Regions from separate parts of the Homo sapiens genome. Here regions 2 and 3 are each linked to region 1. Evidence: fine-mapped expression QTL. A gene starts in region 1. Each other region holds a variant in brackets. All regions are shown on one strand. Distances are between the middles of the regions.

Region 1 (2,848 bases):
TTTAGCCACAGACCAAATCCTTCATCCAGATAAGGGGTAACCCATAGGAACCATAAAAGGAGCACTTAAAATCCAGAAAACTTTGTAAGTGGGCTCTTGAGCCCCTTGCTCCGGCCCACTCACACCCTGTGGGGTGCTTTCTCGCTTTAATAAATTCCTGCTTTCGCTGCTTCGTTTGTGTTTCATTCCTTTGTTATTTTGTGCGTTTTGTCCAATTATTTGTTCAAAATGCCAAGAACCTCGACAACCTACACTCAAGGGCCTCCTACCGGTAACATTACGGGAAACACCATTTCCTCATCACATTTCAGATTTGCTCCCAGTGAGGTACGTGGGCACTTGAACACATCCCTTTAAAAAGGAGAAAGCTTTCTGATCTATGTAGTGATTTATCTGGCAGTGCCTTCTGTCCACCAGCCTCTGGCCTGATTTTCCTAGAGATCAGAAGAATCAACATAACTTTTGTAAACTAAGATCCAGAAAGGGCCTTTGGTTATTATCGGTAAATGCTGGGCTAAAGAAAGAACTGGTGGGCGGGTCACCACCCCAGGCTAGTCCACATAACGCTATTCATCTTAGAAGCAGTAAGACGGGGGAAAGGTCTGCATCCCATTCGCTTATTCCGTCCTACTGAATCTGCCTTGGCAGGACACGACCTGCAAAATAACCCCGTGGATCCGTGGAGTGTCACCACACTGCAGGGTCAAAGGACGGCGTCGGCGGTTCTCGGCTGTTAGGGAGCTAGCCGACGAAGGCACCACAACCCTCATTCTTTACTCTTCCCGCCTGGGGGCCGGGAAGCCAAGCTCTACCGCTTCGAGCACATCCAGGGTCCCCGGGGCCCGGACTGCTGACACCGAGGCAAGGTCTCACCGGGCCCACTCTGCCCAACCTCCCCGATTCTCGCTTAGCCTCTCTTCCCTTTCGGGGTGCCCTCCCGCCTGCTACCCCGAGGGGTGCAAACTCACGACCACCGCGGCGCCGGTGAAAATGTCCTCCCCCTCGGTGTCGCTGTCCCCAGCCTCGGGTTCTGATCCCCCGGCCGCCCCCTCGGACTCCGGCTCCAGGCCGGGGAAGGGCGGAGGCAGTCTCTCCGAAGCGCTACAGCCACCACCACCCGACGCCATCTTCTTCCACCCGCGGCGGAAGCCGCAACAACAACTTTATCGAGAGATAGCGCCGTGAGCAAAGCGATCCAACGGTGCGAGGAGTGGGAGGGCCGCAAGGGACCCCGTGGGATCCGAGGGGCGGAGACCTAGGGGCGGGGCTTAGGCGCTGGGGGCGGGGCGGCACCCGGCCAGCTGAGGCTGCGCAGCAAATCCGAGGCCTGGTTCGCGATGCTGAGATATTAACGAGTGGGGCCAAAGGGGCAGAAAAGTAGGAGTTAGGGGCTGCTCAGGTTTCTAGGGCCCTTTGTGCTCTGGATAGCTTTATCCAACAGGCTTCTAAGAGTTCGTCTGAATGAAGGAGTGTCACTAAAATGTTTGAAAACCTCTACATGCCATCTACCCATGCCAAGCACAATGCCCTCACAGAGAGTCAATAAATATTTCGATTGAGGTATCTGAACAAGACTAGAAGAAAGCTTCACCACTTATTCCTTGAGCAACATTCAGTTAATTCATTAAGAAATACAGATACTGAGCATCTACTGTATGCCTGGCACCTTGCTGTGAGTTTCAGATACAGAAATCAGGTATTTAATCGACAGTTCGACATGTTCAATGCTATGGTGCCCTGTGGGAGCACAGGGAAAGAGATAATCAATTCTGCTTGGAGAAGTAGGGAGGCCTCACAGATGAAGTGAGGCCTCAGTGTCCTAGATTTGGCTGGAAAAATGTTAGGATTATCCTCTCAATTGCTGTGGAGTAAGTGGAGTGGAATAGACGGCAGGGAAATTATTGAACCCTGACCAAAATTTCCTTGGGACCTAAGCAATTCATTGTCTGGTGATCCTAAGGCCTACATTAACTAGACAAACAAGACTGGAGTTTAAAGATAAATGGGCATGTTAGCATGGGACAATTCTGCAAGATAATCCTATCTTCTCAATAGAAATGGCATTTGTCACCAACTTTGACAAGAGGTTTAGTTAGTTTGGTTGTAACTGCAAATTCAGGGATGGACTCCCTCACAGGTCATGTGAGCTGTTTGAAGGCGGGGGCAGCGTTTTATCTTTGTATCTTCCATGCCTATGGATCACCTATGGCAAATTAGTACCTACAAATTTGATCGGAGGGATGGATGGATAAAATAAAATCGATTTTGTTACTGGCATCCATCACACCCACGAACACCAGAGGGCTTAAGATACACTTTTTTTTTTTTTTTTTTTTTTGAGGGAAGTCTCGCTCTTCTCCCCCAGGCTTGAGTGCAATGGCTCGATCTTGGTTCACTGCAACCTCTGCCTCCTGAGTTCAAACGATTCTCCTGCCTCTGCCTCCCAAGTAGCTGGGATTAAGGCCCCTGCCACCACGCCCAGCTAATTTTTGTATTTTTTAGTAGAGACGGGGTTTGCCCATGTTGGCCAGGCTGGTCTCGAACTCCTGACCTCAGGTGATCCGCCCGCCTCGGCCTCCCAAAGTGCTGGGATTATAGGCGTGAGCCATCGCGCCCGGCCAAGATACACTTTTAAGGATGGCGATCTCCATTATGTCACCACTGTACACATTAGACACGGGAAAACTTATGTTCTAAGTTGTCTTTGGAGGCCATTAGCAGAAATATTCGTTCAAAGGTGGGAAGCTGTGCTGGACTGAGTCCCTTAGGAGACGAGAAAGCCAAAAAGCCCTCCCCATGCCATACCTGACTACCTCACTGGCTTCCCATGACATCCCTTTTCACAGCA
Region 2 (2,500 bases), 24 kb before region 1:
AGACATATAATCCAAAGTCCTGGTCCAGGATCTATCATGGGCCACACTGTGCCCTACCAGGAAAGCTACTTCCTTTTTGGTCCTCAATTTCCTTTTCTGTTAGATGACAGAACTGTGTAAGACGCTCAAAAACATCCTACCAGTCCAACAGTCTGGGAAAAGTAAAACTCAACAGTTCAAATTAAAAAAAAATTTTTTTTCTTTTTGAGACAGGATCTCACTCTGTTACCCAACGTGGAGTGCAGTAGTATTACCTCAGCTCACTGCAGCCTTGACCTTCCAGGCTCAAATGATCCTCCCACCTCGGCCTCCCAAGTACGTGGGACTACAGGCATGTACCGCCATGCCTCTGTAATTTTTTATTTTTTTGTAGAGACAGGGCTAATTTTTTACTTTTTGTAGAGTCATGGTCTTGCCATGTTGGGCAGGCTGGTCCTGAACTCCTGGGTTCAAGTGATCCTCCTGCCTTGGCCTTCCAAACTGCTGGGATTACACATGTAAGCCACTGCACCTGGCCTAAAATCAATAGTTTAATGACCACCATTTTGGCCAGAGACCAGGTTAGGCAACATGGTGAAACCCTGTCTCTACAAAAAATATAAAAAAATTAGCCAGGCATGGTGATGCACATCTGTAGTCCCAGCTACTCAGGAGGCTGAGGTGGAAGGATCACCTGAGCCTGGGGAAGTCGAGGCTGCAGTGAGCTGTGATCATACCACTGCACTCCAGCCTGGGTGACAGAGTGAGACCCCGTCTCAAAAAAAAAAAAAAAAAAAAAAAGACAACCATTTTGGCATAAAGTCTAACAAGTTCCTGTCCCTAGTACCAAACAGACCAAGAGTTGAGAATTACATTTGTCCTCTTAACTGTATAAACACCACTCCTGTTTAGGAAGACAGGTTCTGTATAGCCTCTTCCATAAGGGACTATAGCTAGAACAAGGAAAGATGAGGCCTATTGTTCTCCACTCAGGGATAACTCTTGCAAGCTTGGTAGAGGGGAAAGCCATCCTAAAAATCCAAGTCCAGACAAAGTTAAGTGTTATGCTTTTTGAAGATCTAACTTCAATTTTGAGTACAATTCAACTTGGATCCCACAGATAGACTTCCCCACCTCATAAGGTTATCAAAAGTATGTGTATAAATGAGAGTTTCAAACTTCTTGAGGGAAAAAATAAGTTCAGTGTCCCTCAATTTTAGAACATGTATTTTTTAGGGTGCTTACATTGGATTTACTATCTCAAAAGACAGTAAAATGGTCTTATCAACTCTGAAGGAGAAGATAATGTTTTTTGTGTGTGTGTGTGTGT[T/GTTTT]TTTTTTTTTTTTTAAGACACAGTCTTGCTCTGTCACCCAGGATGGAGGGCAGTGGCATGATCTCAGCTCACTGCAGCCTCCACCTCCCGGGTTCAAGCGATTCTCTGGCCTCAGCCTCCTGAGTAGGTGCGATTATAGGCGCACACCACCATGCCTGGTCAATTTTTGCATTTTTAGTATAGATGGGGTTTCACCATGTTGGCCTGGCTGAACTCCTGACCTCAAGTGATCTGCCTGCCTTGGCCTCCCAAAGTGCTGGGATTACAGGTGTGAGCCACCATGGCTGGCCTGTTGGGGTTTTTAAAAAGAGACTCTAGCTGGGTGCGGTGGCTCATGCCTGTAATCTCGGTGCTTTAAGAGGCTAAGGCAGGAGGATCACTTGAGGCCAGGAGTTTGAGACCAGCCTGGGCAACATAGCAAGACCCCATCTCTTAAAAAAAGAATTAGTCGGCATGGTAGCACGTGCCTGCAGTCCCAGCTACTTGGGCGGCTGGGGTGGCTCAGGCGGGAGGACTGCTTGAGTCCAGGAGCTGGAGATGATAGTGAGCTATGATAGTGCTACTGTGCTCCATTCTGGGTGACAAAATGAGGCCTTGTCTCTAAAAAACAAAAAACCAAAAGAATAAAAATAAAAAGGGATTCTAGTAGTATTTGATGACTCTGATTTTTCTTCCTGAAGCCAAGAAAAGACTGACTAACGCATTGAGTAACAGCAGTCTCTGGCCTTAGAAACATAGCAAGGGGTCTACTTTTACAGAAAAGATACTAATGAAGTACTTCACATTGGCTAGTTCAACTCTGGGGGTAGCCATCCTGAAATTAGCTACCTATGCTTTCCACAGCCACATCCTAACATCACAAGGAGTCCTAAGAACCACTTACCTATCTTCTCAGGATCAGTTATACCGACTGTCAAATCAAATTGATCCTCCTGTTCTTCTTCCTCTAGCTTTTTCAAGAAAAGACAAATCATGAGAGTTGATATGAAAAAAAAAGCTATCAATTTTACCCTGTAATAACCTTATACCAATCTAATAAAATCAAGATGTATCCTTCAGTGTTCAGCTTTTGTCCATTCCCAACAATCCCAATGTACCAACTCTCAAAATTTTAAATTAGGAGCCAGCTTACAAGTCTTTGTTACATGTATCCCCTTAAAATCTTATTTTGATGACAATGAATAACTGCCA
Region 3 (2,848 bases), 53 kb before region 1:
GCAAAAAACCTCCATCCCCAGCCCTGCCCCCAGAGAAGGGCTGAGATGACGACCCCAAAATGGGGCAAACAGGTCTCACCAATATCATGTCCCACATTCTCTTTTTCCAAATTGCATCACACAAGGACCACAGAATCAGGAAGCTGAAACTTCCCAGATTCTAGTGGGGTCCCCTAGAAGAAAAGCAGCCCAGAGTGAGGAGAAGTGCTGTGCTTTCATTTCCTCCCTACGGCCCCATCATTCAGGGACCCAGCTTTCCCTGGCCTACAGGGCCTCCCCAACTCCCACTGTCCAGGGAGGCCTCTCCTGGGATCCTCAGACTTCTTGGTCCTCATCCTAATGACTGTCTGCCCCTCTGTCTGTGAGTCTCCATTTTTTCCTGCCTTCATCCCCAATAGAACGTCCATTCTCTACCCTGCAGCACAAACTGTTATCAAGGCATGTGCTTAAAACCTTCCAATGTTTCCCACTGCACTTAGAATAAAACCCACTCTCTCTATGCAATCCACAAAGCTGTAAACAACCCAGCCCAGCCTCCATCTTCCACCTCATTTCCTCTCCTCTCCCCATCATGCACTAGGCTCTTCCAACCTGACAAGCTCTTTCCTGCCTCAGGGCCTTTGCATTAGGCTGTTTGCTCCACCTGGGGGCACCCTTCCTTGACTCTTCAAGGATTGAGCTCATCCTCCAATTCTTAGCCTAAAACTCAACTCAAAAAGGTTTTTTTTTGTTTGTTTGTTTTTGTTTTTGTTTTTTTTTTTGAGACAGGGCCTCACTCCAGTCACCCAGGCTGGAGTGCAGTGACGCAACCACAGGGCTCACTGCAGCTTAGGTGATTTTCCCACCTCAGCCTCCTGAGTAACTGGGACTACAGGTGCGCACCACCACACCCAGCTAATTTTTGTATTTTTTGTAGAGACGGAGTTTGGCCATGTTGGCCAGGCTGGTCTCGAACTCCTGGGCTAAAGCTATGCACCCACCTTGACCTCCCAAAGTGCTGGGATAACAGGCGTGAGCCACCTCACCCAGCTGAGGCTTCCTTCTTGACCACCCTATCATATGACCTTTTCTATGCACATATTACAGTCTGCAATTATTGTTTGGTTACTGTGTGTCTCAAAAACATTTGGGTTGAAAGACTATATGGATAATATTTGTGATTGAAAGACTATATGAATGAATGGGCAGTGGGGGTATGCTGAGAAAAAACTAGGGAGGGGAAGGAGCAGCGTCTGCTGAAGGGTTA[G/A]AGGCTGCCTGCATGGTGGGACAACAAGAATCTTCTTCCTACCTCCAGAATTAAACACACTTCTCCTCTCTTCTCTCTTGGCAGATCATTGTCTACTTTTTCCATTTACTTAATTTTCAGGTGTTCCAGGAAGCCTCAGATCAGTGGATTTTCATCACCAGTTGTGGAAAGAGATTCCATGCAACTGACTTGTCAAACATGTGATAGGGAACCTGCAGCTCCTAATTGCACAGTGTTCCACCGCACAAGAGTGCAGGTACAAAAGAAGAAAAACGAGATCCTTGACACAGAGGCATTTAAGATGTCTTTGGGGAGATAAAACAGGTATGGAGAATATTTTCTAATTTTTTAAAATCAATTATGTATTAATTTATTGAGACAGGGTCTCACTCGTTTGCTGAGACTGGAGTGCAGTGGCACAATCATGGCTCACTACAGCCTTGACATGCCAGACTCAAGCGCTCAGCCTCCCAAGTAGCTGAGACTACAGGTATGCATTATTAAGCCCGGCTAATTTTTGTTTTGTTTTGTTTCATAGAGACAGGGTCTCACTATGCTGCCCAAGCTGGTCTCCAGCTCCTGGGCTCAACTGATCCTCCTGCCTCGGCCTCCCAAACTGCTGGGATTATAGGTGTGAGCCACAGTGCCCGGCCAAGTATTTTCCTATAAAGAGGAACGCATGACATGATGTAAATACCATAGCAGTTATTACAATCAAAGAAAGTTTGCTTTCTGTACGCCTTCAGTGCTGGCCAGCTCAGCATATGAACACCACGTTCCAGACTCTATATGATGGGTGTGCAGACCTCAAAGTAACTTGTTTTTAGAATGAGCTGTTTTATGATACAAGCTTTTGTCTTTTCTCCACCACGATCTAGCACATGGATTGTATTTCAATACTAGATTATAGTAGTTCTCAGACTTTAGCAATCATCACCACCACCTGTAGGGCTGTGAAATCTCACATTTGAGTGCCCTGGCCCTGGATTTTCTTTTTTTTTTTGAGACGGAGTCTGGCTCTGTCGCCCAGGCTGGAGTGCAGTGGCGTGATCTCGGCTCACTGCAAGCTCCGCCTCCCGGGTTCACGCCATTCTCCTGCCTCAGCCTCCCGAGTAGCTGGGACTACAGGTGCCCTCCACCACGCCCGGCTAATTTTTTGTATTTTTAGTAGAGGCGGGGTTTCACCGTGTTAGCCAGGATGGTCTCGATCTCCTGACCTCGTGATCCGCCCGCCTCGGCCTCCCAAAGTGCTGGGATTACAGGCGTGAGCCACCATGCCCGGCCGCCCTGGCCCTGGATTTTCTAATTGCTGGGCTGGGGTGGAGCCTGAAGCGGTCATCTTCAACAAGCTCCCTGGTGGTCCTGAAGCTCCTGGTTGGAGATCACACTAAGCAAGCACCGGTCTCCTGATTACCGCAGCAGCCCCGCCGGGGGCCTGGCTCCACTCGCTCCTCTATGCAGGCATAGAGCCGGCAGTTTGCCACTTGGAAATAGAACCAAGGAGCAGAGGGCAGGAAGGGCTGGGGAGTGAAGATGTACCCCGACTCGCCCCATTCCTGCGCACGGGTAGGCTGGCCCACAGACCCTGCCTTAGCTCAGGCC

Direction of the effects. Alleles are on the strand shown, and positions count from the first base shown. SD is a standard deviation of normalised expression in the study named. Not every link is listed here.
In carriers of allele T in region 2, the expression in iPS cells of the gene that starts at base 1,159 in region 1 tends to be higher than with GTTTT alone (moderate effect, 0.67 SD a copy in iPSCORE).

The links. PIP is the estimated chance that this variant, and not a neighbour inherited with it, causes the effect. A credible set is the group of variants that fine-mapping cannot tell apart.
Region 2: its variant is the best candidate, but not a certain one, in a credible set for the expression of SNX1 in iPS cells (iPSCORE, PIP 0.52).
Region 3: its variant is the best candidate, but not a certain one, in a credible set for the expression of SNX1 in T cells (TOPMed, PIP 0.84).

Annotation. Positions count from the first base shown.
Region 1 is chr15:64,094,293-64,097,140 of GRCh38, reverse strand. It overlaps SNX1 (sorting nexin 1), which reads right to left and starts at 1,159. Exons shown (of 15, transcript NM_003099.5): 1 at 969-1,159. The coding sequence starts at 1,127. RefSeq lists enhancers at 836-915, 1,056-1,175.
Region 2 is chr15:64,118,547-64,121,046 of GRCh38, reverse strand. SNX1 (sorting nexin 1) reads right to left here. Exons shown (of 15, transcript NM_003099.5): 4 at 2,193-2,259. Among named protein-coding and RNA genes, the nearest start is that of SNX1, 24 kb to the right of the region's middle. The variant T/GTTTT (reference allele first, on the strand shown) is at 1,310.
Region 3 is chr15:64,147,379-64,150,226 of GRCh38, reverse strand. No RefSeq gene overlaps it. Among named protein-coding and RNA genes, the nearest start is that of SNX22, 2.9 kb to the left of the region's middle. The variant G/A (reference allele first, on the strand shown) is at 1,247.